Linked DNA regions of Homo sapiens. The protein of the gene in region 1 purifies or fractionates together with the protein of each later gene. This does not show direct contact. Each region holds a gene or a part of one and is shown on either strand. Other genes may lie near its edges.

Region 1 (7,762 bases):
ACCACTCTGATGCGTGCCTCTCTATTCCTTTAGTTCTCTCCTCTTTCTGCTGTCTCTATGTTTCAAATAGAGAGGTCCCTTCACAGTGTACTAGATACTGGGAGACAAAGATTTTATTTCCCCTCAATCCCTTGGGAAATGGTAACCTAGAGTTAAGGTACTTCAGAATCTGATCCCCTCTTTCAGGAAGAGTAGAGAAAACAGCCACCTTTGTCCAAGTGACTGCCTGGTGCACTGTACCCTGTGCACTGTAGCCTCCTGTGCTCCCACATTCCATCATCATGCTTCCACAACAGCCTGGCTCTTGATCACCAATTACTTTCATTTCTTACTCAGATATAGGCATGACCCGCCCCCAATGCTAAACTGTGACAACTCTGGTTAATTCACGAAACAGTTACAAAGCACAGCGTCTACCACATAGTTACCTCTTACAAAAATGGTGACATCACTATGGGCACTTACTGAGAGGCCAGTACTCTCTAGGACATGGCCTAGCCATATGCCTGGATCAGAATAACCCTCAAGCATTTGTTGAGCCTGCAAAGGTCTCACCTCTAGCCCATAGAGAAGATCAGAGGGTGGGCAGCTTGGGCGAACAGGCTCCCCTGCCATAGGTGCACTGGGTGACTTCACCATCATGAAGCTATCACTCCGAGTGGGTGCAGAAGCCAAGGGTGTACAGCCATGAGAGTGGCCTCCCACATCAACAAACTTGATAGGGTCATCTGACCCTAGCTGGATTCGGAGGATCCCATTGGAAGGGGGAAGCCCCTCCCTCCTTCGAGATCTGGTGAGACAGGCACAGGTGCCAGCAGGAAAGCATGTGACTCCACAGGCTGCCCCACGAAGACACTTAGAGAGTAGTGCCACGAATGAGCCAAAGGAGACAAAGCAAATTGCCACTAGGGACACAGCCAAGTAGAGGGTTAGACGAGATTCTCCTTCCCTTGGAGCTGAAGATTCTCGAAGATCTGGGACAACTGGATGAGTGTCTTCCTCTAAGGACACTAAGAGAGTAACAGAGGTAGAGAGTGGTGGACTACCACTATCCTTTACCACAATGACCAGCTTCTGTGGTGGGAGGTCAGCTGGGATAGGAACAGCCGTCCGCACCTCCCCAGCATATCGAGAGACTGCAAACAGGCTGGGATCTGGGGCCTCCAGGAGCTGATAGGAAACCCAAGCATTGTAACCTGAATCCAAGTCCACAGCAGTCACCTTTGTGATTAGGTGGCCAGCACCAACTGATGGAGGCAGTGCTTGGGGACATAAGGAACCAGGCCGGGCCCGAGGACGGAGCACAGCTGGAGCATTGTCATTGAGGTCCAGCACAAATAGACGAACTGTTACAGTGCTGCTAAGGGGTGGGTTGCCCCGATCCCGGGCCTGCACCTCAAACTGCAGTGTCTGGGTTTGCTCATAGTCAAAGGATCGAGTAGCATGAACAGCTCCTGTCTGGGGGTTCAGAGAGATGAAAGAGGAAGCTGATACATCTCGATTCCTGGGCTCCAGGAGTGAGTAGGAGATAAGCGCATTCAAGCCAGAGTCTGGGTCAGAGGCTGCAAGGGAGCAAAGCAGGTCCCCTGGGCGATTGTTCTCAGGAACAAACACCTCATGTGACCTCTGAAAGAAAGAGGGTGGATTATCATTCACATCTGAAATATTGAGGAAAATAGTTCTGTGGGTACTGAGAGGAGGGTTCCCAGCATCAGAAGCAGTGACCATGATGTCATAGCTAGATTTGGCCTCTCGATCCAAGGGTCCAGCAGTCACCAGGGAGAACTGGTTCCTGAAGGCAGACTTGAGGGCAAATGGCAAGTGGTCAGGAATGCGGAGGCTCACATCTCCGTTTGACCCTGAGTCTGGATCCTGCACACTGATAAGTGCCACCACAGTGCCAGGTTCTGCACTCTCGGGGAGGGTTCCAAGCTCTGAGGTCACTGTGATGTAAGGGGCATTGTCATTTACGTCCAGCAGATCCACTCGAAGGCTGCAATGTTGCTCCATGGCTGGAGAACCCCCATCGCGAGCCCGCACATCAAATTCATAGTAATTCTCACTCTCAAAGTCTAGGGGCCCCAAAAGAGTAAGCTTTCCAGTAGTGGGGTGCAGGCTAAAGAGGTTTCTTACACGATCAGGGGTATGACCACTGAAATAAAAGGTGACGTTACCACTGGGACCCAGGTCCGGGTCTGAGGCATTGAGCTGGATGAGCACCATGCCCGCTGGTGCGCTCTCCAACACACTAATCCTGTAGCTGGATTGCTGGAAGGCTGGGGCGTTGTCGTTTACGTCCAGCACGGATACCCGGAGCTCTGCGGTGCCAGATCTCGGCGGGTTCCCTCCATCGACAGCAGTCAGCACCAGGCGGTAGTCCGATTGCTTCTCTCGATCCAAAGGCTTCTCCAGGAGCAGCTCTGGGACCAGGCTGCCGTCGCTGCGCTTCTTCACATCCAGTGCAAAGTGTTCATTGGAGCTCAGCCTATAGCTGCTAATCGAATTGCTCCCCACATCTGCATCCTGAGCCTTTTCCAACGGGAAACGCTGTCCTGGAGGAGCTGCCTCCCCAATTTCCAAGTCCAGCTGCTGCCGCGGAAAACGGGGGGCGTGATCATTCACATCTACGATCTCTACCTCTGCTCGGTACATTTCCAAAGGACCTTCGGTGACAAACTCCAGGGGCACGATGCAGCTGGCACTGAGCCCACACAGTGCCTCTCGGTCGATTGGGTTCTTGATGAGCAGGGCTCCGCTGTCCAAATCCACACGGAAGTGTCTTTGGTTCACCTCTCCAGCGACCTGCAGCCTGCGAGCTGACAGACTGTCCGTATCCAGCAGGAAATCTTGAGCGACATTCCCTACAAAAGTCCCTTCCTGTGACTCCTCTGGGACCGGGTAGCGGATCTGCCCACAAACGTAACCCAGGTGGTAAAAGAGGAACAAAAGGGTAGCCCACCGCCAGATTTCTGTCCAGCTTCTCACCTTGCGGAGCATTGCTGCCGCCCGCTAATTCTCTACTTGCTCCTGAGACGCGGATGAAGCCGACCCGCCCCAAACAGCCACAGCAGCTGGAGACACCTATCTCCCTTTCCCCGCGCCAGCTCTGGCGCGGTTCGGCCGGCGCCGCAAGGGTTACGCGCCGTTTTTGCTGGTGGCGGGGTAGATTTGTCTGCCTTTCACCACCCGATTGGCAGACAGCGGCTCCCGGGCTCAGCCAATAGGCTGAGCAGAGAACGTCCCAACAGCAGCAGGGTTAATGCGTCGCAGCATTGGAGGGGAAAAAGCCCACCCTATCCTCCACGCTCCCCCACCCCCCAAAAAACCCAGCCTATCTTTTCGCCTTCCTCCCGCTCAACGGCATGTTTTTCCACGGGTTGTTATCTCTGTGGGGAGGCAGACAACATATATATATATATACATTTTTTTTCCTAACACACCGACTGACCCCGCCCCTTTTCGGCGGGGAAAACAGCCACAGCCTGAGCCCTAGCAACCTGCGGCCCACTGAGAGGGAGAGTAGCCATTGGAGAGTGGTCACTTTGTTCAAGCCAGTGTTGTCATCAACCAGTATTCTAAATGAGTAGCTTCCGTCTCAGTCTGATTGTATTGGAGCAACTGCTAATTAGAACCACTGCCATATACTCAAAACTCTGCCCTTCTGCAGAATATTCAGAAACGGATCCATCTCTTTGCAGAAAAGGCTTACACATTAACGTAGCCAATTAAATTTATGCAGTACATGTTCTCATTGTAACAGGAGACACAGCGGAAACCAAACCTTTCTTATTCAGACATTTGCTAGTGATACACTAGATACACTAAATTACCATTCATTGATTTCAAGGACAGTATGGAAGCGGGGTGGAGGAAGCCAGGAGAGGGAGATGTTTCAAAACAGTAAAGAATCAGTGTGTCTGGGAGGTGCTAAGGACCAGATCTCTTTACCTGGCAGAATGCTAATGTTCATAGATTTAATAGCTTCCTTGAATGATTGAGATCAGCTACCAACAGCATTGTGCCTACAAATTCCCTTTATCTGACACCAAGGTATTCTTGATCTTTTGTTAATTACCAACGAAGACCATTTCAAAAGAGCAAGCTTTTCACTTAGCCCCAGGGGACCTCTTGGAGCTGGAGACTTGATCTCACCCCACCCCCACCCTCATCCAGACCTCCCAGCAACCTAGCTACTCCCTTGCACAAGCACAGAAACACAACACAATTCACACCGTAGGTACCTACGACCTGCAATCTGAGTGGGAAACACACCAGAGCTCAGAGAAATAGAAAAATCCATCCTGATCTGGACATGAAATTTCTTAATTCAACCAAGTCCTTACCTAGGTTACACTGGCTGCCAAAAAAAGCAGCAACAACTGGAGTTCTTATCCTTCCCCAATATTTTTCCAAGCCTCGATCCTCAGGAATATCCTTTTGACTATGGTGGGAACCAATATTCTGGTGTCAAAAAGAGGAATCTGGCTTTCTGTGTTCTTTTACACACACACACACACACACAAACACACACCCCTCTATACCTTCTCCCATGGGAATGATGGAGGTGTAAACCAGCCTGACCTATTAGGTGTTTATGCCAGAATTCACTGTCTCTGTGAATGGCACTGTCAACCACCCAGCTTCCTTAGTCAGGATCTAGGGGGATCAGCCTTGACTCATCCCTGTCCCTCACTTCCTATATCATGTCAATCAACAAGTCCTGATGATTTTATTGTAGTCAGCTCCCTCCATCTGTACTGCCACTGTGCTGGTTCAAGCATTTATCAATCTTCTCTTCAAATATTGCAATAGCTTTCAAACTATTGCAAAGAGATAAGATCTCTTTGCCTCCAGTCCCAATGTCCCCAGTCCCTTCACTTATGACTGACAGAATAATATTTCTAAAACAAAAAAACCTCATGATATATGCATATCAGTTCAAATTTCTGCAGTGACTGTCATCTATATGGAATAAAATAAAAACTCCTTGGCTTGGCCCAAAGGTAACTCAGGATCTAACTCCTGCCTACTTGCTTCACCTCATCTCCTACAAAGACTGTCTGTTTTACACGCACACTTTTTTTTTGAGATGGAGTCTCTCTCTGTTGCCCATGCTGGAGTGCAGTGGCCTGACACCAGCTCATTGCAACCTCTGCCTCCCGGGTTCAAGCAATTCTCCTGCCTCGACCTCTCAAGTAGCTGCTCAAGTAGCTGGAATTACAGGCACCCACAACCACACCTGGCTAATTTTTTGTATTTTTAATAGAGATGAGGTTTCACCATGTTGGCCAGGCTGGTTTCAAACTCCTGACCTCAAGTGATCTGCCCACCTTGGCCTCCCAAAGTGCTAGGATTACAGGCATGAGCCACCGTACCCGGCCACACACACAGTTTAAGGTTCAGTGATAATGAAATACCATAATCCCTCTGCATGGAATTTCTTGCAATGGCCCCTCCCTGCCCTGTCCTTTCCCCTTTACTGTCTGACAAGCTACTACTCAACCTTTAGATCATAGCTCAAGCATCACCACCTCTATCATTTCTTCCTTTCTCCAGGCTCATTTAGGTGTTTTTTCCCGTTTGGTCCCACTGCATCTTATGCTATGCAGATCTCCATTATCTTTTTTTTTTTTTTTTTTTGCATGTCTGTCTCATACTGTACTCTGGGTACCAGAATGATAACTTTTAATTGTTTACAGTGTCTGGCACATAGGGATGCTAATAAATGGTGAATATCAGTATTATCATTTTTAGTTCAACAAATAGTTATTGAGTACTTGCTCCATACAGGGACTTTATATGCATTACTTTTCACTCTCACAACAAGTTTGCAAAGTAGATATTCTCTTTATTTTATAGATGAGGAAACTGGAGTTTAAAGAGATTAAAAGACTTACCTAAGCTAAACAACTAATATGTACAGTACTATACTTATATTGGCAATTTCACACCAAAACAAGTACCTGGTCTGTTTTACTAGAACTGGAGCATCGTAAAGCCTTAATCTTACATATCTTTGACTTGACCTTTTTATGCCAGCCATATGATTCTCCCATCTCTAGATATTTTTTTTTTTTTTTTGAGATGGAGTGAGTTTTGTTCTTGTTGCCCAGGCTGGAATGCAACAGCATGATCTTGGCTCACTGCAACCTCTGCTTCCTGAGATAAAGCGATTCTCCTGCTTCAACCTCCCAAGTAGCTGTGACTACAGGCACCTGCCACCACATCTGGCTGATTTTTTTTTTTTTTTTTTTTTTGAGATGGAGTTTCGCTCTTTCACCCAGGCTGGAGTGCAGTGGCGCGATCTCGGCTCACTGCAACCTCCACCATCAAGCGATTCTCCTGCCTCAGCCACCACGCCTGGTGAATTTTTGTATTTTTAGTAGAGACGGGGTTTCACCATGTTGGCCAGGCTGGTCTTGGACTCCTGACCTCGTGATCCGCCCGCCTCCGCCTCCCAAAGTGCTGGGATTACAGGCGTGAGCCACCAGGCCCGGCCTGATTTTTGTATTATTAGTAGAGATGAAGTTTCACCATGTTGGCCAGGCCGGTCTTGAACTCCTGGCCTCAGGTGATCCGCTGGCCTCAGCCTCCCTAAGTACTGGGATTACAGGCGTGAGCCACTGAGCCCAGCCCCATCTCTAGATTTTTACTGAGACATAATTCACATACCATGCAAATCACATATTTAAAGTGTATAATCCAATGGTTTTCAGTGTATTTACATGTACTAAACTGATACAATCATCATCACAATCTAATTATACAAGAATTTTGTCACATCCCTCCAAAAAGAACCCAATATCTATTGAACAGCTGTAGATGTTTAAATAATAGTTGTCCAGGGGCTAGTGCTTTAGGAAGGTTTTTCCCTTAGATGACTGAAATACCATTTTATGTCTTCCTACAGTGATCTTTTAGAGCTATGCTATGTAATACTTTAAGGCTGGGAGACCTTACCATGTTTTTTAAAAAAATTGGGCCTGGCCCAATAAAGCTGGATTCTGGTTCTGCAAATACCAGAATAACACTTTACTTCACAAATATGCTAAATGATGGATTGGTAGGTTCCAGAGTACTGCTTTTCTTTTTTCTTTCTTTCTTTTTGTTTTTGAGGTGGAGTCTCGCTCTGTCGCCCAGGCTGGAGTGCAGTGGTGTGATCTGGGCTCACTGAAACTTCCACATCCTGGGTTCACTGATTCTCCCTCACTGATGCTTCCGCCTCAGCCTCTAGAGTAGCTGGGACTACAGGTATGCGCCACCATGCCCAGCTAATGTTTGCATTTTTAGTAGAGACGGGGTTTCACCATATTGGCCAGGCTGGTCTCAAACTCCTGATCTTATGATCCACCCACCTCAGCCTCCCAAAGCTGTGGTTTTCAAATTTGTCTGCACATTAGGATCAAGTGGGGACCTTCAAAAAATGATGCCTATGTCCCACCCCCAGAGACTGTGCTTTCATTTGTCGGGGTGTGGCCTGGGTTTCAGAATTTTTAAAAGGTCTCTAGGTGATTTTAATGTGCAACCAAGTTTGAAAACATTGTTCTAGGGAAAATGCCAGTTGCTTTCCAGGCTGACCAGAAGAGCGGCAGTTATTTCTTGCTGGCTTTCATGCTTTCTTAGCCTTTTCATATGTGCTTCTACTTTGTCATTTTTGGTTGTTCTCATATGTGTATTTCTAAGGTGTGTTTGAGATTTTAGGTGAGTGAGGAACTAATAAAAATAATTATAGTAATAGCTGATAATTTTTTTTTTTGAGACA
Region 2 (2,951 bases), about 12 Mb from region 1:
TTTATGACAAACCCACAGTCAATATCATACTGAATGGGCAAAAACTGGAAGCATTCCCTTCGAAAACCGGCACAAGGCAAGGATGCCCTCTCTCACCACTCCTATTCAACATAGTATTGGAAGTTTTGGCCAGGGCAATCAGGCAACAGAAAGGAATAAAGGGTATTCAGATAGGAAAAGAGGAAGTCAAATTGTCTCTGTTTGCAGATGACATGATTGTATATTTAGAAAACCCCACTGTCTTAGCCCAAAATCTTCTTAAGCTGATAAGCAACTTCAGCAGTCTCAGGACAAAAAATCAATGTGCAAAAATCACAAGCATTCCTATACACCAATAACAAACAGAGAGCCAAATCAGCAGTGAACTTTCATTCACAATTGGTACAAATAGAATAAAATACCTAAGAATACAACTTACAAGGGATTTGAAGGACCTCTTCAAGGAGAACTACAAACCACTGCGCAAGGAAAAAAATAGGACACAAATAAATGGAAAAACATTCCATGCTCATGGATAGAAAGAATCAATATCATGAAAATGTCCATATTGCCCATAGTAATTTATAGATTCAATGCTATCCCCATCAAGCTACCAATGACTTTCTTCACAGAATTGGAAAAATCTACTTTAAACTTCATATGGAACCAAAAAAGAGCCCGCATAACCAAGACAATCCTAAGCAAAAAGAACAAAGCTGGAGGTTTCATGCTACCTGACTTCAAACTATACTGAAAACACATTTTTAATGAAAATTATGTTATTGGGTTATAAGACAGGATACATAAAAATAAAATATTTCAGTAAAATTTAATCTTTTATTCAAAATTAGAAATTTTACTTATTAGAAAGTACATTTTTAGTGATTGTCCAAACCGCTAGCCACTATTTATTATTTAAAATCTTTAGTATTAAGGAAAATACTTAGTTATGCACTGAATCTCCAAATAGATAAAAAGAATAATCAACTACTGTTTATATCAATTAAAAGAAATTAAAATTCTTATGCAATTAAAAAATTATCTCTCATATTAAGGAAATATAGTACATGCATAATTAATGTTAGCTCCCTTTCCCCATTTCATAAAGAATCATATACCCCCCTCTCACTCTTCCTAAGAAAGCATATGAAAGTTCTAGATATAAAAATCTTAAAGTTTTATTTCCCCTAACATTATTTGATCATAAAGTTCCCTGGTCAGTAGAACATAAGACTTTTTCAAGTTATCCATGAAGTAAAGTGGTTCAGAAATTTTCAGTGGATTAAATCCATCTTCCACCAACTGATGCTTCAATAGTTTGAATGTTCCTGTTGCTTCCATTTTTTCCTGTAAAGCAATTACCAGGATGAGTAGAATCATTTAATAACTATAATATATACATATATAGTTAATACTATAGACTGTAATATTAAATTATGACACTTTATATCTAGTGATCTCTGTATTTTCTAATAATTTAACACTAGAAATAAAAAATGTATTTTAGAATATTAAAATCTTTAGTTTGATTTACCTGTAAACTTTACTTAAATATAAACTCATTCAATATATAAGAATTATGAACATAATAAACTGATTATAATTATGTCTAAAATACATAGGTTATCTCTTCAATTCAATGCCAATATAACATTATGTATAGAGAATGCCATAAGATGCTAAGGAGATAAAAGCCACAAAAGACAGCAATTTCTACTACAGGTACACACAAATCTATCATAAAAAGCAGAATACTATAAGAGCCAGACGGGGTGCAGAATGTTCTAAAACATGGCTTAAATATACCCAGAGGGGTTACTTGAATGGTCTAAAACTTGAGGTACCTCAGTGAATTTCCAAGGTCCTCACAGGATATCTTGTTTTCAAGAGAAACTCAGTGACATCTGTTAGTCACCAGTCACAAACTACTAGCTCAAGGTTCACAGTTTCAATAGTAATTTGTAATACATTCAATGATGTCATTATCTTTGCAAAATTGGGTTTTTGGTAGTTGCTGGGATAAAAAGCAAGTACAGCCAAAAATCATCATGGAACATGAAATCAGGCTCTCCCTGTCCAGTCCAATCTAATTCCAAGGTCTGAAGAACTGTGGCCCAACTTACATCTCCTTAGTGACTGATTGTGGTTATTTGAAAATGAAATGAAAGCATTTACTTATTTATATGGATTATTTTTCAGGTGGCTACTCATTTGTTAGACCTAAATACTTACCAATCTGTTTTTCCTTAACTAGTGAATAAACAAATGTTTAGGTATTTGTTTTGACCCAAGAGTGCTATGAGACATTAAAGATGCCATGAGTCTAGAAAGTTTAAGAATCTCTGTTTCAAGGTGTTTAAAGGAGATAAGAGTGTATCCCTTTGTGGGAATTTCAGGCATGGATAAACAGTCTGTTTAAGTGAGATGACATGTAGAGACCCTACAACATTCTATGAGTAGCTTGGCCATTTTTATTTATCCTTTTGGACTATTTGAGTCAACTTCACTTTGAACCCCCTTCCCTGATCTCCCTTCCCTCCTCCATCTCCCCTGATCCAACACTGTCATCACAGCCAGATATGGCTGTGCAAGCAAACATATCCTTTTACTCTTTTCTTAAAAATTAGCAGCTCACTGTATTTATACAATTTAGTGTTCTGCCATTTTTAAGCTTAATATTATACAAAGTATATTTTCCTGGGTCCTGTAATTTTCTTCAAAATTGAACTTAGAAAATTGTTTTATAAGGTCTCATTTAATTATCATATTTTAATTAACTTTGCCCTTATTCATGAACTTTTAGAGAATATCAAAATTTTTAACACTAGAAATAAAAAATGTGTTTTAGAATATTAAAATCTTTATACATCTTTGATTACTTCCTAAGATGCATTTTGACTAAGTCAAAATATATGCAAACTGTTAAGAGTCTGATCATATATTACCAAATTGTTTTCTAGAGAGGTTATAAC

What was found.
Region 2: the proteins of PCDHGC4 (region 1) and SLC27A6 purify together in Homo sapiens (co-immunoprecipitation; 2 studies listed by BioGRID and IntAct, with this or other methods). This does not show direct contact.

What each region holds. Positions count from the first base shown.
Region 1 is NC_000005.10:141,480,409-141,488,170, reverse strand, and holds the start of PCDHGC4 (protocadherin gamma-C4 isoform 1 precursor), read right to left. Parts: upstream 3,142-7,762; 5' UTR 2,998-3,141; coding exon 556-2,997; coding exon of another isoform or gene 382-555; intron 1-381. UniProt on the Homo sapiens protein: Potential calcium-dependent cell-adhesion protein. May be involved in the establishment and maintenance of specific neuronal connections in the brain.
Region 2 is NC_000005.10:129,031,481-129,034,431, reverse strand, and holds the end of SLC27A6 (long-chain fatty acid transport protein 6), read right to left. Parts: intron 1,327-2,951; coding exon 1,150-1,326; 3' UTR 797-1,149; downstream 1-796. UniProt on the Homo sapiens protein: Mediates the import of long-chain fatty acids (LCFA) into the cell by facilitating their transport at the plasma membrane.